3 separate regions of the Homo sapiens genome follow, and regions 1 and 3 are each linked to region 2. Evidence: fine-mapped expression QTL. A gene starts in region 2. Each other region holds a variant in brackets. All regions are shown on one strand. Distances are between the middles of the regions. Region 1 overlaps OTOF (otoferlin). Region 2 holds the start of OTOF (otoferlin). Region 3 overlaps OTOF (otoferlin).

The links.
Region 1: its variant is fine-mapped to the expression of OTOF in testis (GTEx, PIP above 0.99).
Region 3: its variant is fine-mapped to the expression of OTOF in whole blood (TOPMed, PIP above 0.99).

The regions. Positions count from the first base shown.
Region 1 is chr2:26,485,819-26,493,993 of GRCh38, forward strand. It overlaps OTOF (otoferlin), which reads right to left. Exons shown (of 47, transcript NM_194248.3): 10 at 3,860-3,922; 11 at 3,393-3,477. Among named protein-coding and RNA genes, the nearest start is that of OTOF, 69 kb to the right of the region's middle. RefSeq lists a silencer at 3,988-4,230 and an enhancer at 7,828-7,977. The variant C/T (reference allele first, on the strand shown) is at 3,875.
Region 2 is chr2:26,553,918-26,562,092 of GRCh38, forward strand. It overlaps OTOF (otoferlin), which reads right to left and starts at 4,839. Exons shown (of 47, transcript NM_194248.3): 1 at 4,576-4,839. The coding sequence starts at 4,654. RefSeq lists enhancers at 4,200-4,993, 4,994-5,786.
Region 3 is chr2:26,471,899-26,480,073 of GRCh38, forward strand. It overlaps OTOF (otoferlin), which reads right to left. Exons shown (of 47, transcript NM_194248.3): 17 at 7,575-7,755; 18 at 7,366-7,486; 19 at 5,751-5,851; 20 at 5,518-5,608; 21 at 5,274-5,390; 22 at 4,993-5,145; 23 at 4,230-4,419; 24 at 4,016-4,140; 25 at 3,461-3,595; 26 at 2,615-2,776; 27 at 2,093-2,212; 28 at 1,508-1,669; 29 at 1,234-1,396; 30 at 621-751. Among named protein-coding and RNA genes, the nearest start is that of DRC1, 74 kb to the left of the region's middle. RefSeq lists an enhancer at 5,661-5,850. The variant C/T (reference allele first, on the strand shown) is at 4,393.

The DNA.
Region 1 (8,175 bases), 68 kb before region 2:
AAGATAATGCCACAGTAGAGTCTGAAGAGAGGGACAAGCAAGGTGAGAGGGCAGGAAGGCACGTGGATGAGGAGTCACTGGAGAACCTCAGCCAGGCTGGCAGGCCTCCAGGGAGGGGCCATGTCCCAGGAATCCCAGGAGCTTCAGGTCTTGCCAGAGCAGATGTGTGTCGGATGAGGAGATGGACAGAAAGCTCAATGAATGGGTGCATAAATGGGCAGAGGGATGGGTGGTGAGCTGCCTGGCCGGCTGAGAGATAGACGGACAGATGGTGAATGGATTACTGGATAGAAGGAGCCATTAATCTGTGGACAGGTGGGTGGGTAGATATATGGATGGGTGGGTGGATGGGTGGATATATGGGTGGGTGGATCTGTGGATGGGTGGGTAGGTGGATGGATCTGTGGATAGATGGGTGGGTAGATATATGGATGGGTGGGTGGGTGGATGGATGGATATATGGGTGAGTGGGTGGATCTGTAGACAGGCGGGTGGGTGGGTGGATGGATTCACGGATGGGTGGGTGGGTGGACCAATGGATATATGGATTGGTGCGTGAATGGATGGATACATGGATGGGTGGGTGGATCTGTGGACAGGTGGGTGGATGGATTTGTAGATGGGTGGGTGAGTGGATGGATGGATACAGGGGTAGATGTATAGAGGTGTGCATGGTTAGATGAATTGGGGACATTTAGCAAAGAAAGAGAATACGGTTCAGGAGGAATGTAAAATTTACCTTCAAATTTAAAGGCTATTTTTCTTTTTGTCCTGAAAGAGAGACGTGTGAAAGTGGGTGAAGGTTACAGGGTGACAGATTTTGAGATGACCTAAAGAAAGTGAAGATATCTAAAATAAGAAGTAGTGAGTGCCCCATTTCTGGGAGGACTAAGCAAGGTTAGAGGACCAATCAGAGATGGTGCTGTGGGGGTCCCTACATCAGGTTAACACTTGACTCATGACTTCTGAGGCCCTTCTAGTCCTAATACTGTGTGATCTCAGGCTAGAGATACAAGGACCACATGAGATCCTGAGCTATATGCTTACCAGCCTGAAACATCATTTCACCTCCCTTCAGCCTGGGGCTGACACCTGCCAGTCAAGGGTAGCCCAGCTGGGGAAGTTGCTGCATCCCAGACCTCCTTTATGATCTATGAGGATGAGTGTATGCCCCTGACTTCCTCTATGATCTATGAGGATGAGTGTATGGCCCGTCCTCACCCCCAACAGAGAGTAGCAAACAGTAAACAGTTTCCTGATGTTGCATCTGGTGGTACAAATGACAAAATGTGGTCCTGCCAGGGTGAGAAGAGGTTCTCTCGGGAAACCCCTTCCAGTTCCAAGAGATATCGACACCACCCAAAGCTTCCCAGCAGCACCCAGGAGTGTCTCTGGGAGCATGCTGTCCAACAATGCCCTGGCTGGAACCAACGACTCATCAAGAAGTTCAGGCCAAACTGGAGATATCAGAGTAAAGACATTGGGTCTCAACTCCAGGACCCATGTGACTTCAGGCTCTCCTGTCCCTGGGAGGGCACCAGGCTCAGGGCTGGATTCAGCAGAAGCAGCAAATCTCGAGCTAGGTTACCCAAGTGGAGACCTCGGCCCACATCCTGTTTCTGCCGCTTACTCACAATGTGGCCCTGGACCAGCTGTTTAAGCCTGCTGAGCCTCAGTTTCCTTATGGTGAAATGGGAATGATGCCTATATGGGGTCGTGAGGGTGAGGCCTGCTGGGACAGTGAGCTTAGCCCAACATCTGGCACTTACTGATGCCCTGGTGGTTTCCTCACCAGGACTTTACTACCCAGAAGCCCAGAGGTCCATATTAGACTAATATCTGCCTTTTTCTCCACCCCCTGACTTTCTCTTGGCTCTCGGCCTCAGGCCTGCCAGTGGTACCAGGGCCACTGCTCAGCCCTGGGAGGAGCTTATCCTCAGGGATGCCAGTCATTCCAAGCAAGTAGTCCACGGCTATGCATGCTTCCTGGAAAGCAACATGGCAGGAGGCCGACTCTTCCCTGCTCCCCATGGCACTGATGGTCAGCAGGGCTGCCCTCCGCTGAGGGCTATGGCATGTGTGGGGTGGTGGCAAAGGCACTGGCCTGGGAGCTGGAGACAGGGGTGCTACTCCTAGATGGTGGACAAACCCCTTCATCACCTTGGGCTTCAGTTTATCTTCACAGAGGCTGGACTAGATGTTTTTCAGGTCTTGGGCAGCTTGAGTGTTCTATGATCTTGTGATTTTTATGTGTATAATCTTGGTTTTGGACTCAGATTCCCTGGTCTAAGTCATAGTTGTAATGTGCACCAGCTGGACGTCTCTTAGGTTGAACCACAAGCGATCGCCAATTTGTTCAACCTACTAGTTTAGTGGTATCTCTAAGCCCCTTCATTTCTCTTAGCCTCATTTATCTCATGTGCAAAATGGGAAGAAATGCTGCTGCCTACATTACTGTTTTGTGAGGGCCCAATGTGACAATTGGGTGAAATTATGTTCTCACTGTCAAAGCGCCTAATGGGGTCATTACAGCACTCTGAGCAGTGCATTCACTTCAGGGACACAGGGTGGTCCCTAACCTGCCCACGTGGTGAGCTGTCATCTGGCAGGCTGAGGCACTTCCTCTGCCTGGCCCACCTCACAAGCCCTCTGGGCCACCCCTTGGGGTTCCCTTGCCAACACCATTGCTGTTACCCTACAGGACGCCACGGAGCACACATGGCTGCCCAAAAGCCTGGGGCTCTTGTAAGAAGTGTTTTCAGAGACCAGAGTCCCTCAGAGGCCGCCGCACTACATCTGGCATTGACCAGCATCACCGCTTTCAGATTGGATAGTGTGGCTCAGTGAGGCTCTGGGGACACACAGCCTGACTTCACCCCCGGCCAGCTGTGTGGCTGGGGCAAGCCCTGGCTCTGAGCCTCAACTGTAAAAGGGGACGGCAGGGTCCTGTGAGGGGTGGAAAGGGGTTCTTTTCTGCTCAGCAGGTGCCAGCCCAGGAGGCAGGAGTCTGGGCGCAGCCTCTCTGCAGGCTGTGACGGGTCTCCCTCACCGCATCCTCTACCACTACTGGTCAGCCTGCCTATGGCCAGTGATGCACCAGCCTGCCATGCACTCCAGAGCGTGTGATGAAGCTCCTTCCAGGCTCTGTGCAGAGTTACTCACCTAATTATGAGTGAGAACCCACCAGACTGGGTGCGCAGTTGCTCACTGCATTTGTGTACAGACTGTGCGCGCCACTTCTCCGCAGGCCAGATGGCTGTGTGTACTAACAGTCGCCAGACTGTGGTCCTTGCCAGCCTTTTCCCAGGAACTGCCACAGTGGGAAGGGCCCCGTGCACCACGCTCCCTGAGCCATGCACACCTCGACTGACTGGCCATGCGCAGGTACTCACCTGGCTGCGAGTACACGGTTCCCACGTCCATTTTGAAGGAGCCCACCAGGGTGCCACTGCGCAGCAGGTTCTTGGAGTGAATCACCTTTCAGGCAGAACCACAGCCCACCCGTCAGGCCCAGCAAGGGTGAGGCTTTCCATGGGGCAGTGGTGGGACCCGAGCTTTGTGGTGAAGTGGGAGGGCGTTGGCAGAGTGGGGTGGCTCACTGAGGCTCAGCATCAGCTCCTCCTGCCCACGCCAGTTTCTTGCTGGCCACTGTTTACGGGCGAATGCACTATTCAGAGGCATCCAATGAAAGGGGTGGGTGGGGGCCAGAATCCAGCCTGTCCCTACTTGCCCAGCCGTGTGTCCAGGCACGGCGCTGCCTCTTTATCATGGGTCTAGACAGAGGGGGCCCCTCTCAAGTCTGCACAAAGGTGCAGTTTGAGGGAGTGGCCCTGCCGGCCAGGGGCTGCTCCCCACTCACCGAAATCTTGATGAT[C/T]TTGTCAAACATGACATCCGGAGAGACATGGAAGTCGAAGACGAAGTACTGGAGGGGGAAGGATCCAGGCCTGCTGTCACTGAGGGCAGCAGCAACAGCCCAGGCAGTGTTGGGCCCCTCCCTCCTCGCAGGGCCTGTCTGCACCCCAGACATTTGCCCTGAGCCCCAAAGTTCAGAGGAGCAGCAGAGGCAACTCATCTGATCCTGATTGACCCTGGTGGTGGGTGGTAGGAAGCAGAGCCCCATCCCCTAGGTGGGGCTGGTGCTGGCTAGTGTGGGGTGGGAAAGGAACTTGGAACAGTAGGTGGGACAGCCCATGCCCTTGTACTGTGCTCAGAAGAGGCACAGGGCCAGGGAGCAAGCAGACCTGGGTTCTAGTCCCCGCTCTGCACCTTCTTAACTGTGTGGCCTTGAGCAACACATTCTCTGAACCTCAGTTTTTTGAGCTGTGAAATGGGGATAATGACACCCACCTCAGAGTCTTGTTATGAGGCTCTGATGAGACAGTGTAACATATTTTACCAAATCTAAAGTGGCTACTGGCTGTAAGATATACTACGGTTTAATAAGCCACATGGACATTGCCATGAAGCCACAAGGCTGCCTAGGAGACACATCCCAAATTCAGAGAGGTGAAACTGTAAAATAACGCAAGCCTCAGAGCAGATGAACCATGGTGTGCCAAGCACTTAGTTGGCAGTCGATGTGAAATGCCATGGGTGTGCACTGTCCTTTGGTGCTGTGGGCTGCCATGCACATTTGCAGTCCCCATCTCTTCCCCTGGCCTGGGTGTGCAGGTGCTGAGGATGAGGGTGTGGGGCAGTGAGTAGAGGGGCTGCTGCTTTGGTGAACTGTGGTGGGGGAGAAGGGAGAAATATTTCCAATGTGCTTGGGGTAAATGTCCGAAGAGAACGTGCTCCTGGCTGCTGGGGGCTGGCCCTTGAGCACTGAGGGTAAAGCCAGCTTCAGAGCCAGCCCCACCTGGCTGTTACTGCTAGATCACTCACTTTCTTGCCTGAGCCTCAGTTTACCTATTATCCTATGAATGTGGAGATATGATCCAGGGCTGTCGTGCTGAACTGCTCCAGGGGTGCCATTCACTTGGGGGGCTTCAAGGTGTGGTTGTGAAGTTGCAATGAGACACCCTGGTCAAGTCTTTAACACAGGTGTGCACCACGGTAAGCACATAGCAAGCAGCGACAGCTGTGCATGACACTAACAGGCCCAGGGTGTGCTGGCCAGAGTTCTGAAGCTCTGGGGAGGCGGGTGGGGATATGGATTTGGGAATCGTCAGCACAAGATGGTAACTGACACCTTGGAGATGGAGGAGATACCTGGGGAGAGCATGGGAGGGGAAGCAGGCCCAGGTCAGGGCTCCAAGAAGACACAGCCTTTCAGCCAAGAAGTTAGGCCGGGGAGATGGAGCTGGAGAGACAGGGGAAGCAGGAGAGTGGCGTGAGGGGCCCCCAAGAGGAGCAGCAGGCAGCGGGATGAAAGAAACTGGGTGATCAAGGGAGAGGAGGATGACATGGACATTATACTCAGGAACAGCAATGTCCTTGGTGACCTTGAGGAGAGCAGTGTCAATGACATCTGGAGGCAGAAACCCTGCAGAGATTGAGGGGTGACTGGGGGGAGGAAGTGAGGACAACCCAAGTGGTCTGACTGTGGAGGGGTGGAGGGAAAAAGGAGGTCACTGGAGAAGTGTGTGGGAATGAGGAAAGGCCCAGAGAGAGGTGACAGACTCCTAGTTCCTGTCCTTGAGCACACATGGGTCTTCATGGTTGTACTTAGCATATGCTGGAGTAGAACACCTTATAGGCAAGGAAGAAGGGGCTGGAAGAAAAACAAAGACAGAGTTGGGCTGTGCAATGCCAGGTTCTTTGAGCTGTAGAAAGAGAAGGATCCAAGGCAAAGGGGAGAGGTGGATTTTCAGCAGGAGGAAGGATGGTGGCGCTCCCAAGATGCCCAGGGCGGGGCCAGATGCACACACAGGACACACAGGAAAGGAGCCTTAGTCTGGTTTGTGAATGGCCAGCTTGTTCCGGAAGGGCAAAGGTTTTGAGCTTCCCTGCACACAGGCAGGCTCAGGGCCAGGCAGGGTGATCAGGCCAGGTGCCCGCAGATGTGCCAGCCCCAGGGGAGCGAGCTAGCTGAGCTAGAGCCAGAATCCCGAACTCTCTGAGCTGTCTGCAATCAAATTCCTGTTATTTCCTGAGCATATTTTCCTTTTGTAATAGCTTAGATACCTAAGTCATGTTGATTGTTCCCACCTCCCTCTGTTGTTTTAATGGAGCCAAAGGAAGGTTCCTACCAGCTCAGATAATTAGTCAGAAATAATACATTCCCACGACGAGGAGGATGTCCTTCATTGAAAAGGAATGTGGCATAGAAAGAGAAGAAAAGGGAAACAAAGCTTTGGGGCTGGAAAGGCTGATTTGGGGCTGGAAGGAATCATAGTAAGATAGTTTAGAATGGTGGTCTCAACTGAGGGCGATTTCAGGGGACATTTGGCATGTCTGGAAACTTGGTAGCTGTAACTAAGGGGAGTTGCTATTGGCATCTACTGGGTAGAGGCCAGGGATGCTGCTCACATCCTACACAGCACAGGACGATCCCACCACAATTATCCAGTCCAAGATACCATAGTGCTGAGTTTGAGAAACCCTAGTTTAGAGGAAACAGAAACAAAATCAGAGCTATTTGGGTTTGTGAAAAAGAACAAAAATGTGATCAGAAACACATTTAAGATTGTCCAAAGATGAGCAGAATGAATAGTCAGTCTTAGAGGAAGTAAATAGGGAATTTAGAAAGATTCTAGGCTGAAACAAGGAGGGGACCTGCGCAGGGCGGAAACTGTGCCTCCTTCATCTCGGCAGCCTCCATGTTGCCCCACGTGCCACTGTCTGGTGTGCGGCAGATGCTCAGTGGATGTTTGTGTCTTCCTTTGGGTGAGTGTTACTGAACCCCTCCGAGTACATGCCTGGCTCTGAACAAATAGCGAGGCAGGAGACTGGGAGCCTCCAGTCCACCAGCAGGACAGAGACACGGAGGACCAACCTCAACTCCAGGACATTAACACTGCAGAGAAAGGGGAGTGCTGACCTCTGACCCAGACAGAGCAGGCAAGGCTGCTCAGTAGCAAGAACATTTGAGCTGGGCCCTGCCGGGTGAGTAGGAGTTTTCTGGGGGAGCCACAGAGTAGGGAGAGCAGCTCTGTGCCCTTGGGAAAGAGGAAGTAATTTGAATGAAAGCCAAGGTGTGTGGGCCTGGTGGAGGGAGATCCCTTAAGTTAGCAGAAGTGGCTTCACTGCTATCAAGTAACCACCGGGGCCACAGGGACCTGTCTCCATGCCTGTCTTGGGGACATAGATGCTTATCTAGGCGGAGACTTGTCCAGTCAGGATGTGTCCTAACGTAAGGCCAGAGATGTCAATCCTGAATGTCCTTGGGGCTGGAGGGGTCCTGAGCAGGTTGTCCAGCTCGGGGGGCCTGTGGGAAAGCAGCTGGGAGAGCAGAGTCAATTTGTGGTCACAAAGGAGAGTTCGGCCAGGCCTGGGCTGAAGGGCAGAGGTGGGCCTGGGTTTTCTTCCTGCAGGTGCACAGTCTGAGGACTCTCAGAGCTGCCTGAGAAATGCCCTCCCCCAAGCTACAGGGGGCACCTCAGCCCTCACCCACCTCAGGGTACGGGACTCAGCTGCCTTACTTGGGACAGCCTGGCACCCCTCACTGCCTGGAGCCACCAGGAGAAACAGACTGGGGAACCCTCCAGGAAAGGGATGGCAGGGCCCAGGCCTGTGGCTTCTGGGTTAGTCTGATGTGTGATCAGGCATCTGGGAAAGGCCTGGGCATCCTGGTGAGAAAACATTTTCAATGGTCCATTTTCAAGGCAGGATAAGTCTAAGTACTGGCATCCAACCTGCGAATGCAACAAACCACACGGCTCATGCACCTAGAAGGACACAATAAGCGAACAGAATGTAGAGGAGGGGTCAGCCCATGAAAGGGAAGAAAGTTTTGTTATTGGGAAATCGAAACTTAAGTGGGGAAATCGAAGGGGAGCGGGGTATAACCTTGTAAGGGGGAAAATGAAACTTAGGCGACGTCAGGGAAGATTGTAACCCCATAGTGCTCAACCAATGGGGAAGTGGGGGAGGGACTTGCACACTAGGAGATAAATTCCTGTTGTGACTGCCCCAGGGGTGCCTGCCTACCAGACACTCCATCTTGCAAGACCGTTATTAAAAGTCTCACTTTCGCTGTTCTTCATGCCTCTAAGTCATTCTTTGGGTTTTGATGAG
Region 2 (8,175 bases):
ATCCCAGCACTTTGGGAGGCCGAGGCAGGCGGATCATGAGGTCAGGAGTTTGAGACCAGCCTGGGAAATATGGTGAAACACCGTCTCTACTAAAAATACAAAAATTAGTCGGGCATGGTGGCGTGTGCCTGTAGTCCCAGCTACTCCAGAGGCTGAGGCAGAAGAATCGCTTGAACCCAGGAGCTGGAGGTTGCAGTGAGCCGAGATCGCACTGCACTGCACTCCAGCCTGGCGACAGAGCGAGACTCAAAAAAAAAAAAAAAAAAAAAAATCGTTAGGCCCCTCTGGAGCCCTAGAAGATTCTCTGGGTTAGGGAAGTTGATGGAAGGAGTAAGAGCCAAGGTTCTTGGTTCTTGGCCCTTGAGGCCTCTTCCAGTCCCTTGATCCTCCTTGGATAGAAAGTTCTGGGGTGAGAGCTCACAGTTGGGGAAATGGAGCCAAAGAGTGACAGTGCCACAGTGGAAGAACTCAAACCCATGACACAGTGAATCCCTCAAAGACAGAAACCATGTCTGATGTCTGTCCTGAAGATGCTCAAAAGCTTGGGCAGCATGCAGAGGTGTGGCCAGTTTCTGAAATGCAATGTACCTTGGCAGAGCAGTAGGAAGAATGTGTGCAAAGTACTGCTAGAGGAGTACTTTGTGTGCAAAGTACTACTCCTTCATGGAGGAGGTAGCATATGAGCTGGGCCTTGAAGGATGAGCAGAATTAATGGGCGTTCTCAAGGTGGAGGGTGGTCATTCCAGGCAGAAGAAATATGATCGATGTCTCAAAGTTTGGAGGTGTAAAAGGGTGTGGTATCTTTTGGGAATGGCTGGAAGTTGAATGTAGTGGGAACATAGCAGGGTGGGAATCAGGGGGAGGGTGGGAAGAAGAGTAAGAATGAAAAGGTGGAGGGGGATGCCCTGCAAACCTTTGTGCCAATTTCCAGCCACAGTGAATTATGTGGAAGCCAGATCCAGCCTTTAGATGTTCTTATCTCACACAGAAAATCCCCAAACCTCATGTCTTGGCAAGAAGGCTCAGGGGATAGAAAGAGAAGGGAGACATCAGGGTTGGCCCTGGACTGTCTGTCACTTGGTTCCCTTACAGTCCAGGTCCCCCAGCCTTGGTGCTCAGCACTGGACAGAAGGTTGGACTAGAAGAACTTCGGGACCCTTCACACCCTGCGTTCTGTGGCTCTGTGATTGATGTAGGGAACTATCTCAGGAGTTGATAAAGGAAATACCTGAAGCTAATACTTCCTCTCTTTGAGTAGCAACCTGTGGTCAAGATGGCTCCTTCTTAGATAGCCCACTCTTGATTACTCCTGGGAACTGCAGGCCTCTGAGCTAAATGAGGACCACTGTCTCCATTTTGTTAATGAGAAACCCAGCTGAGCCCTGTGGCCTGCAGGCACAATAGAGATTCGCCCAGGACTCCCTATCTCCTGTCTGACCCAATGGGATTGTGACTCCTGGAGGGCCAGGCTGGCCCCTTCACCTCAGGGTCCCAGGCCTGTGCACAAATATTAGCATGTTCAGGAAATGCATGAACAGGGCAGCACCAGCTTAGGAGCAGCCAGGGGCAGTAAGAACTAAGAGCTAGATACAGAACTGGCTGGGAGCACTGACCGAGGGGCCGACTGGCCTGAGGGCAGTGGGAAAAGAGGTGGCCACGGGCAAAGCTGGTGCACACCCAGCCAGATGAGAACAGGAGTCTCGGGGGTCTGCCTGCCTGGGTTCCTGCGGAACATCTCAGCAGAGGCTCCTACAGAGCAGAGTCCAGGCTCTCTGCCTTCTCCTGGCAGACTGGAACCCCTTAGACGTGCTCTCCTCTTCCCTTTATATCTCACATGGGGCCCTCTGCTGGTCTGGAGAGAAGATACCTCAGGGGCCAGCAGCTGCTCCCAAGGAGAATGGGAATGGCTGCCTCACAAACACATCGACCATTTGAATACTCTTCCCACAAACTCTTCCATACCTATGGTTTCCCTGAAGCAATCTAGTGAAGTGAGTGTTATTATCATGCCCATTTTACAGATGAGGAAACTGAGGGTGAGTGGCAGAACCCAGGTAGGATCTAGGGCTTCTGACTCCATATCCAGAACTTTTTCCACAATAGCCCAGGAGGGCTCTTTCCTTAGTGTCTTGGATGGCACAGCACAGAAGGTCAAGCCATATTTCAACCAGCTGCTCTGGCCTACCTAGGGCCACTGCCAATGGGCACAGCTCACCAAGGGCTCCCTCACCACCTCCCCCGGCATTGACTTTCACTCAAAAGCCTTGGGGAGCCTGGGGCCAGTGTCTCCCTCTGCGTGTTTACCAGTTTCTTGTTTCCCCCTGCAGAGGACTTGCTTGGCCCCCAGTGGTTGCATGTGCTGGGAGATGCTAAGGAACATTGTAGAGCGGGTCCATTCCCTCTGAATTGTGGTCAGTGTTGGTCTTTTGGGGCGCCTACAACTGTGAACTGCTAGATGACACAGGTGAGCGGCTGAGGCATCTTTCGTTGTAATAAAGGTACTTTCTGGAAACTGCTTGTCATCTGCCTATTCCTGCTGCCCAGCCCCCTTCCCCAGGAGCTCTGCCCATGGCCACCTCCTGCCAATGTGGAGCTTGGAAGCGATTTCTCCACTCAGTCCAGAGAGCAAGGGTTGCAAATAAACTAATTCCTGTGTGGTCAGTGAGGCTAAAGGCCCAGCCCTTCACTGCTCCAAGGAGAAGATGGGTGTCAGACAAGGTGCTGGCCCCCAGGTGGCCCAGGAGCAGATAAAGAGCTTGCAAGATTGAGTACTCAGGATGAGGTCCTGAGAGCTGGGACCACCGTGCCTCAGCTCCTCCGTGAATGCCACGCGCAGTGTTCTACCCCTGAACCTTGGTTTCTCGGCCTGCAAGTGGGCCTGTCCGGTGCAGCCTGGACCGTTCCAGCACAGCTGCAGCAGGATGGCAACCTGTAGCTTAACCGCCCCACACTATGCTGCCCGTGGAGCTCAGGGCCACATTTCACAGATGAAAGGACACATTTGCTTTTTCTAAAGCCAGCATGAGCCTGCAGGTGGCACACAGAGGGAGATCCAGGGTGCTGCAGAGAAAGCAGTCAGTGGGTTGGGGTGGGAGGCAAAAGGCAGCCCAGCCCACACCTCCCTCTCCCTCCTGCCTAACCTCCGCCTGCCGGCAGGGCCACTGCCATCACCTCCACCCCTGCCTGTCCCTATGAACACAAGCTGCAATGTGGGCATCCCAGGGCCTCTGGGTAGGTGATGTGGGTGCCCCAGGGCTCTTGCTGGAATGTTCTGCCAATGGTCTCTCCCATCCCTTCCAACAGAGGTGCAGACACTGTGTCCAGCCTGGGCCCCAAGGCTCACTTTGCTCTTTAGTATAGGGGGGTCCTCTCTGCCCCCTTCTCACCACCTCGTCCCCATCCCACTCTCAGACCCCTCTCTCGGGAGAAGGGGCCATGTCTAGTGAGAAGTACCCCCAACCCTCAGGGCTGGGCAGCAACCACATGGAGAGGCAGAGGTGGGTGGTGAAGGACAGAGTCAGCCTGGCCCTGCCTTTCCCCACTTAAAATGCTCAGGGGCTCCGCTGTCCCCGGGGTCAGGTCCAGCCTCGCCTCCTTGCCCTGCTTGGCTCTCTGGCCTCCGCTCCTGCACCCTCTCTGAGCTGTAGACACATGGAACCTCTTTCAGTTCCAGAGTTTCAGCTCCTCTCTCAGCTCTGGGCACACTGTTTCCTCTGCCTCCTCAGTCCTTACCTCCTCTCCTAGCTCCCACCCGCTGGTCCTTCGGGTATTAGCTGAGTGTTACTTCCTCCGGGAAGCCTTCCCTGACCACCGGTCACCAGCCTGGGTGAGGGTGCTGCTTCTGTAGCTTGCATGCTGCACCCCCACCTTCTGTCTCACATACCTGTCCTGCTTGTTCCACGCCTGCCCAACAGATGCAGGCTCCTTGGGGCTGGGGCTGGGTTGTGCTCAGCTCTGTGTTTCTACCCCTATCCTTGGGACACAGTAGATCATAATAAATGGTCGCTGAATACAGGAGTGAAAAGGATGAGAAAAGACCAGACAGAAGAGAGGCGAGGGGCTCCCGGGGTTCCCGCCCATGAATAGATCTAAAAGAAGCCAACAGTGTCCCCCATCACTCTGGGGCCCAGGGAGCTACTGGCTGCCTGGTTTCTCCCAGTCACCCTGGGTGCCCCAGGCTCCATACCCGGCCCCCACCCTGTGCTCAAGGAAATCAACCTGCAGGAGAGGGAGAGAGAGAGAAGGAGGGGGTCCTGGGTCTCCCTGAGCTCAGGGATGTGGTCCTCACTTCTGCCTCCCCAGGCAGAGGGCTCTGTGCCCTGCCCGGGGAACTGGCATGTTGGCAAGCACAAGGAGACACAGGCATGGAAGAACAGGGGACCCTGATTTTCCAGAAATCACAATGGCCAGTCAGTCCCAGGCAGATGACTACCTGTGAAAAGGCTCGTCGCCCCAGCCCCTGCTAGAACTTTTCCCACCCATCCTCCCAGCCCTGTCCTATCCCCGGCCACCTCCAGAGCATGGGCTGGTCCAGCTCTCAGAGCTGGCGTCCCTCTGAGACAGCGGCTTCCCTACCTCGGAAAGTCACTTTGGCGATCCGGTCGCCCCTGCCCCGCAGCTCCGAGACTGTCTTGAGGTGGATGAGCAAGGCCATGCTGGTGTGGGCTGCCTGGCACTGCCAGGCAGGAGCAGCGGGAAGGAGCTAGCCGGTGGAGCACGGCTCACACGCCTCTCTCTTCTCTGCCGCTGCCTCCTCCTCCTCCTCCCGACCCCCCTCCGATGCTGCCCACAGAGACCAAGGCAACCAAGCCGAGCTAAGCTGCTCCTGCAGCGACTCACAGAGCCTCACAGCCCCCGCCCCTCCAAGTTGTCAGCCCAGCGTGTGTGTATCGGTGTGTGCGTGTGTGTGTGTGTGTGTGTGCACCCAATGTGCAGCCTGGGAGTGCGGCAGAGTTGGAATTCATTATTCAGCAGCCGCCGGCTCCCAGATAAAGCTCTGTCCAGCTTCAGGTGTCTTCTCCCAGCTCCTGGAAGGGAGGCTCTGCCCACCCCTCTGCAGGGCTCTGCTGCTTCCCTGCTAAGCAAGCCCTGCCACCAGTAGTGGGCACAGAGGAGTGGGCATGAGCATAGGTAGGGTGGATGTGGGGCGGGGGGCACTCCCACCCACAGGGGCACACTACAAGAAGAAGGGAATGTATTTGTCCACCTACGCCCACCTCTTCCCTGCTGGAGACTGTGCCCCCAAGAGGCTGGGCCCTGAGCCCTGCCCTGGGATCCCTGTTTCTGAATCTCAGGAAGCAGAGAGGCTGGGGCTGCTGCCTGAGGGGAGGCTCAGGACCAGGCCATGCATGATGGAGATGGCTGGTTGTGGAGGCAGCAGAGGCTTATGTGCTACCAGGGGCCATGTTTAAGGATCCAGGGCACTAACCTAGCCCCACCCCAAGGCTGGGGGTCAGGCAGGCTAGCGAAGGTAAGCCAGGCTGATGTTTGCTTTCCAGCCAGAGGAGCAGAATTGAATGGCCTTCTGCTGTTATAAGCTGCTAGGGGCAGGAGAAGGGATGTCTATAGGGAAATTTCTAAGGACCAAAAGAGAACTGCCCCCTCCTGTCTTCCAGCAGCATACACCAAGGAAAGGGACGCTGGGGGCCAGAATCCCTGATGCTGGAATCTGTGCAGGGTCATCTGCAGCCTTGTTCTTGCTATTCATTCTTGGTGGAATGCCCTCCACCCCACCCTGGACTCAGCTTGAGTGCCTGCTCCTGGAGGTGCCTCTGTACCCGCACCCCAGCTGGGTTGGGGTCCTCCTCTGTGCTGCTCCTGCCTCCTCTCATCTTACTGAGTCCTGGGGCTGCTTCCCTTGCCTTTTCCCCTCCTGACCTCAGGAGGGCCCTGGAGCACAGCATCCCTCTACCCCAGAGCCCCACATGGTATCCTGTGCACCGTAGGATGCCCAATTACTGTTGAAAGGATAAAAGAGTGAGCTCAGGGATCTACCTGAAACAGAGTCTAAAGGTTAAAAAGAGAAATACTAATTTTTCACAGCATGGTAACAAGAGGTTACTTCTTTTGAATTCTGCATTCCAAATAACCTACAGTATGTCCCAAGAGCCTTCTTTCCTCCTTCTAGATATTTCCTTGCTACTGTGCCCTATTTTTCTTTTTCTACTTACGTTTTTTTCCTTTGCACTTTTTCCTAACCAATTCTTGCTTACCTTTCTCACATTTATCTAATCATATTGAATTTAAAAATGTCTTAGAGTATTCTGTTTATTGAATACAAGTATGAATGCTAAATTTTCAAAAGCTAGATAAGTTTAATGTCTTAAAAAAAAAAACACCTAAATTCACTAGCATTTTCCATCCATGAGGTCATCAGGTGATCTGTGTTTTTAAGGCTTGGTGACTACAAGGTACAACAACAACAACAGAAAATATCTTCTTCCTTGGTTCTCTGGAGGTCCTCCCCTGAAAGGAGTGAATTTCATGAGGCCTCTTATAGACCCTGTGCATCTTTAGGAAAAAGCCCATGATCCTGCCCTAGCCAAGGCATTGATCTATGCTGAATCTCACTTTCCACATCCATAAAATGGTAGCAATTCCACTCAGCAGCTCTCAATGGAGTCAGCTGGCCTTTCTGAAAACCTAAGAGACAGATCCCACTCTTTTTTTTTTTTTTTTTTTGAGAGAGAGTCTCACTCTGTCACCCAGGCTGGAGGGCAGTGGAGTGATCTAGGCTCACTGCAACCTCTGCCTCCCGGGTTCAAGCGATTCTCCTGCCTCAGCCTCCCAAATAGGTCAGACTATAAGCATGTGCTACCATGCCCAGCTAATGTTTGTATTTTTAGTAGAGATGGGGTTTCACCATGTTGGCTAGGCTGGTCTCAAACTGCTGACCTCAAGTGATCCGCCTGCCTCGGCCTTCCAAAATGCTGGGATTACAGGCATGAGCCACCGTTCCCAGCCAGAACCCACTTTTTAATTTCCATTCTTCTGTTACCCATTTTGGTAACTGAGTATATAATTTATGTAATGAACATTTACTGAATTCTTTCCAGAGCCAGGTGCTGAGATTCAGGGATGAATATGATATGGATGGCACAGGATCCCAATCAGACGAGACAGATGGACTAGAACACAGGCAGGTGGAAGGCAGGGTGGTGGGTTTACCAGCAGGACTGGCTGGGCAGCCCTGAATGGGGGAGGAAGTAGGCGGTCAACCTCACCAGGGCTGGGGGTCTTTGACTCATGTTTTCCTTATTGTAGAACATGTTCCCCAATGAGAATTTAGAAAAATACAGACATGACTGCATTCTGAAGGATGGATGGATTTTCCTTCCACCCAGTTTGTTTGCAGCCGTTCCTTTGCCTACAGCTCTCTTTCCAACCAGGCCTCAGTGTTTCTGCTTCCTGAGCCTCTGGGAAGCCTGTGGCTCCCCTTCATTTCATTGGCATTTGCCAGGGGAAGTCTTTGGAGAATGCTGGTGGCAGCCACATTCTGTGAACCCAGTAGCGTCTGCGGTCTTCATCCACTGCCATTTACAGAACCGAAGTGCGAGGGGAGCACTGCTCTCCATCCGGCATCTGAAGGGAAGAAGCAAGACCTGGAGACAAAGTGGGAACTGCCAGGCTTCTTCATGACACCAGGACTGCTGCAGAGGGAGCTGGGGTGGCAGGGCCTCCACCCGAGTCACCAAGAGCCTGGCACCGTGGAAGCTGTCCCCATACCCTCACCCCTTATGGAAAAGCCGAAGGCCCTGTGCCTGCCCTAGGCACCAAGGCTGGTGTAAGGGTCCCTGGAGAAACTCAAATGTGGAGGCTGAAGCAGTCACAGGGAGGATTACACAGGGGGTGGGCCTTCAGCAGGCCTGCTCTCTGGGGCAAGCGCTACCCCTGCGGATGCCATCCCCAAAATGAACGGCAGCATTGGGGACAAATGTAAATCACACACCCAGACGTTCTATGATTTTCTTTTTGCCTCTTGTGGAGTAGTTTACAGGTATGATGAGGTGAGAAGGAAGCCATCAGCTAGAGATTAAGAAGAAAAATGAAAAATGCTCCTCTTCGCAAGGCGCGCACACACACACGCACACATGCACGCACGCACGCACACACACAATTACACACAGCGTCCTAGGCAACCTCGCCCAGCGCGGCCCACTACAGAGCCCCTTCCTG
Region 3 (8,175 bases), 82 kb before region 2:
GCATATATACCACACTCATGCACATTTACCTACCACCCGCATGCATGCACACTGCACACATGCACATATGCATTTACACACCACATGCACACACATATGCACACACCACATGCACATATGCACACCATACGCATGCACACATACATGCACATGCTCATACCACATGCATGCATGCACGTGCATATGAACATACACCACACATGCATGCACATGTGCACACCACACGCACGCACGTGCATATGCACATACCCCACATACATGCACACACACATGCACATACACCACATGCATACATGCACGATGCACATATGCACACCACACATACGCATGCACGCACAAATGCACATACATCACATGCATGCACACACACATGCACATATGCACACCACACACATGCGCACACACATGCACATTTACATACCACACGCACGCGTGTGCATTCCAGGATAGTATTAGGAGGGAGCTGTTTGGACACACAATCAAGCTCAGCCCCCGACAGTCACATGCCAAAGGAGGCTCTTAGTGTCCTTTTCTCTCGGGGCAGATAGTCTGGTTCACAGGATGTGTCACACGAAGTTGCATGTTCCCAGCCAGCAGGGGGCTGACCCCACCCGCCTTACCGCGTCCAGCTTCACCATGGTCTCCAGTTTCTTGATGGGTACCTCTGGCTCCATAGTCACCACAACCTCCCCTGTGGAGTGAGAGGAGGAGCCCCCATTGCACAGCACACGGCAGCGCCGGAGAAGCCTGACTGGACAGATGGATAGATGGACAGACAGGCAGAGGAAGGAGCAAGAGGAACAGTGAGATTGGCGGGGCAGGAAGGTGCGGAGAACTAAAGCTGATTCTGGAACTTTCTGAGGGAGAGGGGGACAGGCAGTCAAGGGAGAAAATATGGGCATGGGGAGGGAAGAAGAGAGCCCGAGATAAGGGGAAGCTGCGGAGGCCGGTGGGAGGGAGGTGGCGGGGAGGCCTGGGTCTTCTCCATCAACCAGCGCAAGGGGCTTTCTGCCCTCAGGCCCCCCCAGGCTGTCTCCAGTTCTGCCCTCTCTGGCTGTAGAGCTGGCGTCACCTTGGGCAGCCTTCCTTGGCCACCAGGGTGACCTTCTTCTATGCCCACCCCCTCGGCCCCAAAGAGCAAACTCTGGTCGCGGCTTGGACTGGGCGGAGACCTGGAGCCCTTCCCTGGGGGGCGTGGAGCCAGGCTTGGTGGCAGGGTGGATGTGGCCATACCCGTGGTGTTCCAGCTGGGGGCCGAGCGGTCTGGGGGCCGGTAGATGAAGCGTCGCAGGGAGCTGACGGCATGGGAGCCCACCAGTGTGTAGCGACCGAAGGCCCGGCAGTCCACCACACGGATGTTCAAGGGCGGGTGCAGCAGCTCGTTCTCTGGGAGGTCCTGGGGTGTTGGCGACAGGAGCCTGAGCCTCCAAGAAGGGGCAGAGGAAGCCGGCTGGCTGAGTGGAGCCACACTGGCCACAGGATGTCCTCCGCCAGGGCCTGCACTCACCACTTCAAACCACTTGACGAGGGTGTTGAAGTTGGGGTTCTTCTTATAATTGTGGATCAGGGACGACTGCACCCCCTTCCCTGCACACTCGATGTCCACCCGTGGCCGGTCCACCTGGGCCAGGTTCACCCGCTTTAGGTCCCGTAGGCCCCAGAACAGCACCTGGGAGAGGTTGGAGGGTGGGTGCAGAGAAGAGAGCCCCTTAGTCAAGGGAGCCAGCCATGGGGGTGCTGGACCATCCAATAGGGAACCGGGCAGTGGGATGGGCAGTAGTTCACCCCAGATTTCAAAGGGTGGGAGCAGGGCCAGGAGAGCAGAGGAGGGGCAGGCGTTCTCCAGGGATGAGGGTGGGGCTGCCCGGAGAAGGGGTGCAGGGTCAGGGGTGCAGACAGGAGGGCTGGGCATGGTCCTGGGACATGGGAGTGCGACTTGGTGCAGATGGGGGCAGGCCCTGGGCTGGGGCAGGAGCCTGGGTCTGCTGCTGGCTCCTGGTGATGGTGGTGGGAGGGGGATGACAAGCCACTTCCCCTCCTGGGTCCTCAGACTCCTCATCCAAAAGGGAAGGGCCACACAGAGCCCTCGCACCTCCACTCGGTACTTGCTGAGCACGGGCCGGATGCCCATGGGCACGGGCATGATGGGACCTCGGTCCACGTCCACCGGGCCATTGATGGGGGGCAGGTCAGCCTTCCCTGCTGGTCCAATCTGGGGAATGGGGGTCACAGGTCACACACTGGGGAGCCCAGGGACAGGGTCTCTTTCCCCATGAGTTGTTTGCCATGATCTGGGGAGACAGGGAAACCCCCTAAGGACCACGCCCCCAGCTTTGGTCAGGATGGGTAGGAGAGAGGCCCCTAGGCCCCAGCCCCCAGGCCCCAGCTCCAGGCCCCAACCCCCAGGACCTAACGCCCAGGCCCTAACCCCCCAGGCCCCAGGCCCCAGCCCTCAGCCCCAGCCCCCAGCCCCAGGCCCCAGCCTCCAGCCCCCAGGCCCCACCCCCAGGCCCCAGACCCCAGGCCCCAGCCTTCAGGGTCCAGCCCCCAGCCCTAGGCCCCAACTCCCAGCCTCCAGTCCCCAGGCCTCAGCCCCTCTTCCCTGCAGTCCCACCTGCAGCAGCTCGAAGGCCGCCAGCAGGTCTCCAGCTGTGGCGTTGCCACGGTAGATCTGGTAGTACTCGAGCTGAGGTGGGAAGCGGGGTGGGCAGTACGCCTCGTCTGCCATCTTCACCAGGGGTTTGGCGAAGGTCCGGCCCATGAAGTCAGCTTTGCCCTGACGCAACAGACAACCCAGAAGCCTCTTGGTGCTTGCTGTCCACACCTGTGATCTCGTTTGGTCCTTACCACAGCGCCATGAGTTGTTGTAAGGGACAGGTGTGATCACCCCATTTTACAGATGAGGAAACCAAGTCTCAGGGCCCACCAAAGACTTGTTCAAGGCCAAGCAGTCAGTAAATGGCAGATGCCCGGCTCAGGACTAGACATGAGGTCCTCCTACCTCTAGTCCAGGGCTATCTGGGCACCTCAGCAGCTGAGGTGGTATGTGAGAAGGTGGCTCGCTAACTCTCGGGGGTCACCCCAATCCCTTACTCCCTGCTCCAGAACCTCCACGGAGGATGGCAAGGCTGTTACTGGTTGTGGTAGGTGAGGGCAGGGGTCGGGGAGCCCTGGGGTGGGGAGGCTAGTGACAGCAGGACTTGCTGGCACACCTCCAGGGCTCAGTCTGTAGGAGACAGGAGGTGAGGATGTGCTGGCCTGGGAAGGGGTCAGGCTGCCGCAAGCAGGCAGGAGGAGCTAGATGTCAGCCCCCACTCCCAGCTTCCCAGCCAGCACCTGGCCAAGGAGCTCTGCAGGTGGGTGGCGGAGGTGAGGGCACAGCCTCAGCGCAGGTGGAGTGCAGGGAACAAGGGCCAGGTGTGGTGCTGCTGGGGTCCCTGGCACCAGAGCCCACCCATACCATGGAATCCTGGTCATAGATTTCAATGACAATGATGGGCGGATCGTCCCTCAGCTCATGAGCTTCACCATAGAGCTCCAGGTTGTCGAACACCAGCATCTGGTCCCAGGTGGGACACAGGGTCTCATTCAGCACCTGCAGCATGGGATGGGGAGACAGGGGACAAGTGACAGAGGGGGGGGCAGATGCACAAACAGAAGCCACCCCTACTCACTCAGCTTCCACGGAACCTGGGGGCAGGAGTGACAGGTGTCTTGATTCTTCCAGAAATCTTAAAATCAAGGCTAATATGAGGTTTGGCCCAAGCCCCCTGCCAATGTCCTCCTTGTCGTCCCTGTCTTGTGAATATAACCACAGCTAAAGCCCGTAGCCTTTCCAGTGTGACCCGCGTCTGCTGCAGTTATCTGCAGGGCTTCCCCTGAGAAACCGGGGCACTGGCTGACCTGTGGCTCCAGGCCCCACAGGCTCACAGGCCCCACAGGCTCCAGTCCCCACAGGCTCACAGGCTTCTGGTGCTCTCAAAGCCAGAGCCACTCCCTCCTCCCAGGCCCTCACCTCTGTGCACTGACTCTGATTGATGAAGAAGACGCGGGCAAAGGGGTCTGAGAGTCCGCTGCTGTCGGCGGCAAAGAGGCTGCGGGCCTGGTACATGTGCGCTCGGAGCTGGAACGCCTGCTTCTCTGTGGGGAAGGGCAGCCTGAGGTTCCAGGATGGGCAGCCCCTCCGGCCCCCTCCCAGGTGAGGCTTCGAGTGAGGGGTCCTCACTCACTGGTGTAGACCAGGCTGACGGGTGGGAAGGCATGCAGGCCCAGGCCCTGGGCTGCCTTGACCTCCTGGAAGCCACAGGGCAGGCCGCACAGGAACTCCTTGCGCTGTTTGCTGAGGCCCAGCCACAGGTACAGCTCCACCTTGGCCTGCACTGTCCAGCCTGC[C/T]GAGCCGAAGCCCCGCTTCCCTGGCAGCTGGGGGTGGGCATGGGGTCACCAGGAGCCTGACGGCTGCCAGGGCCCAAGAGGTGGGGAAGGGGCAGGGGCCGGCAGAGGCCCTGGTCAGAGCTGCCCTGCCCCTTCACAGCCATCCCGCTGGGCTGGGGTCCGGTGGAGGCAGGAGGATGGGCAGGGGGCCGTCATGCCCCCTTCCCCACCCCTTCCCCCACCTCCTTCCCCACCCCTTCCCCCACCTCCTTCCCCACCCCTTCCCCCACCTCCTTCCCCACCCCTTCCCCCACCCCTTCCCTCACCCCTTCCCCCACCTCCTTCCCCACCCCTTCCCCCACCCCTTCCCCCACCTCCTTCCCCACCCCTTCCCCCACCCCTTCCCCCACCCCTTCCCCCACCTCCTTCCCCACCCCTTCCCCCACCCCTTCCCCCACCTCCTTCCCCACCCCTTCCCCCACGTCCTTCCCATTCTTGGCTCTTCTCTGAGCACCTGCTGCTTGAAGGCCCCACCCTGTCACTCAGGCTTCCAGCCCCAGGTGGGGGCTGCTGCTCCCCTGAAAGGACCCAGGCCCCCATCCATCCTGCCCCCTCCAGCACCTTAAGGAAGAGCGTCTTGACCTTGGCGCAGTCCTTGCCAGTCTCCTCCTCCACGATGGAGAAGAGCAGGTCCTTGGAGGGCACACGGGCATAGGCGACACGCTTGTTGTTGCTCATCATCCAGATGAAGATGTCGGGAATGCTGTGCTGGGGCTGGGGGTTGGGGGGTGGCCAGGGGCAGTGGGTAAGGGGGTCTAGCCTCCTGATTGAGCCCCCTGATCCTGAGGGGCCCCAGAGAGCCAGCCCTGGATGAGGCAAAGCCCCGACCCCTTGGGCCGCACCTCGTCCGCCAGGAAGCGCAGCTTCTGCAGGAAGTTCTGGCACAGCCTCAGCTTGTCCCGCACCGTGTGCCGCTTCACCTGGGCCCGCAGCATCCTGGCCTGCTGCCCCATGTTTTCCTGCGAAGGAGGGGGTGTCAGTGAACCCAGCAACTGGGGGACAGCTCGGGCCATGACAAAGGGGGTTGTGACACCTTCTCACAACCAGGCCCTCCCTCCAGCCCCCGCCGTCCAGTTGCGTCCTCACCAGCTCCCTCATGCAGGACTTGAGGCGCTCCCGGTCAAGCCTGGTGCGGGATGAGTGGCCCTGGTCCTTGTCAGCGAGGGAGAGGAAGCGGCTGGGGGTAGGGCGAGCCGGGGTTTAGCGAGCCTGACCAGCAGGGGCTCTGTAGATTCTTCCTCATCTGCCCAGCCCTGGCAGGGTCCCCTTTGTCCAGTTCCGCCTCATCCTCCCCCCACCTGCCGCCCCTCCCTTCTCACCAGCAGCCACAGCTCAGCTCCTCCAGGACGCCCCGCAGGCGACGCTCAGGGTAGGACTTCTCCGTTTTGATCATCTCCTGTATGTCGTTCAGGCCTTCTTCCTGTGAATCAGGAGTGTGGGTGATGCTGGGCCACAGCCCCGCCTCCCCAGCCTCCCCAAATGCCTCCTCCCTGTTGATCAGGGGAGTGAGGGACCTCATGATCTGGGAGCTCTCGCTAGGGCCATCCTGAGTATCGGTCATCATGAGGAAGTCATCAATTTCCCAGGTTCTGTTCTCAGAACCTGGAGATGTTGGTGTTCATGGGGGTTCTTCAGTTCCTGAAGGAAGAAGCCACCTCTGGGCTGTGAGTCTGTGGCTCTGGTGAGCTCACAGGGCCTGGGCAGAACTCACGGCTACGGGGCTCAGGGCTGGCCAGAGACAGAGGGAAACCCTAGGACTGGATGTGCCAAGATCCTGACGTCACTCCAGAATGCTGGAGCCTGTGGCAGGGGATGGGAACAGATGCCTGGGGGAAGAGGGAGTGGCTCTGGCTCTGAGAGCACTGGGAGGGCTGTGAGACCCAGGTCCCACAGGAAACACAGGTCAGCTTGTACCCCAGCTCCTTAGGGGGAAGCCTTGCAGATAACTGCAGACCCAGGTCACACTGCAAAGGCTATGGGCTTTAATTGTGGTTATAGTCACAAGACAGGGATGACAAGGAGGACATTGGCAGGGGGCTGGGAGCAGACCTCATATTAGCCTTGATTTTTTTGGAGGTTTTAATTCATTTTTATAAAATATGAGCTGGCTGAGCTTCAGGGAACTTCAACAGGGAACAGCAACAGCTCAGGGAAGGGCGGGATTATCTGCTGGTCCCTGCTTCCCCAGGCTGGGGAGAAGGAGGTCTCATGCCAACAGCTGCACTCCTCGCCCAGTCAGTGCCCATGGCTCATGGGGGGAGAGGGGTGGGCAGAGGAGGAGGGGGCAGCTCCTGAGCTTCAGACACTGCTCGCTTCTCCCTTTTCCCCATTTCCCTTCCCTAGCCTTGCTTTTTTATTTTGTTTTATTTTATTTTATTTTATTTTTTGAGATGAAGTTTTGCTCGGTTGCCCAGGCTGGAGTGCAGTGGCGCCATCTTGGCTCACTGCAAACTCCGCCTCACGGGTTCAAGCGATTCTCCTGCTTCAGCCTCCCGAATAGCTGGGATTACAGGTGCCCGCCACCAAGCCCCGCTAATTTTTGCATTTTTAGTAGAGACGGCATTTCACTATGTTGGCCAGGATGGTCTCGAACTCCTGACCTCAGGTGATCCACCTGCCTTGGCCTCCCAAAGTGTTGGGATTACAGGCGTGAGCCACCACACCTGTCTCCCTAGCCTTGCTTTTAAGATTTCTGGAAAAATCAGGGAACCCAACACTCCTGCCCCAGGATTCACTGGAGGCTGAGTGACTAGAGGTGGCTCCTGTCCTTGTCTGTGCCCTGGGACCTGGGGCTGAGAATGGGAACAGAGGTCCTGCTGGGGCCGTTCCTGCAGCCCCCTGGGCAGACCAGCTTTGTGTGTTCCAGGGAAGGCCCTCTGACAGCGCCGTCTCCCCCAGGACCCCACCCCTGCTGGCCCCTGGCCTGGCCCTGACCAGCTTGTCGGCAATGTGGTCCATGATGTTGGCATTGTAGAGGCGGCGGCGCTGGTCCGGCCACCAGCTCTTGATGTAGATGCAGGGCTTTCGCTCCAGGTAGGGCAGATGGAAGTAGTTCCTGGGGTGGGCAGAGGCGGGAGGTGAGGTCTTGGGGGCCCAGGGAGGTGGGAGGGCCAGGCCACAGGAGGATGGGAGGCTGGGCCCACCTGTCGGTGACCTGGGGCCGCATTGGTGGAGTGGAGGAGACTGAGGCCAGGTCCCCGGCATCACCGGCCTCGTCATCACTTGCGTTCTGAATCAGGTCTACTTCTTCCTCATCCCCCGGCTCCTTCCGGGGCCGAGGCCGCTGGGGCCGGGACAGGCCATCAACTTCGTTCCCATAGTTGCCTGGAGCAGAATGGGCCCAGAAGGCCTAGAGTGCATTCCCCACCAGGCCCCTCCCACCGTCCAATCCGGTGCTGCCTTGGGTTTGGGAAAGGGGAGAGGGAGAGTCAGGGAATGGGGCTCAGACGTGACACATCATTAGCCAGAGAGCATTAGCCCGTGTCCCCACTCCGCTGAGAGTCAGGGAGTCCTCATGACGCCTGAGTGCGAGGCCCAGCCCTGGCCCAGGCTGTGGCCTGAGTTCCCACTCTCTCCTCTCCAGCCCCGGGAAGGGCTTCTCCCTGCCCTCTGCCCCAGGTCCCAAACACAGCCTCACCCTGTAGGTGGAGCTGAGGGTTGGCCCCTTTATGGGGCGTGGTCCACCCCATGCACACACAAAGGTGTTTTGTGGGTGCTTGAGGCCTCTCAGGGGAAAGGGGTCAA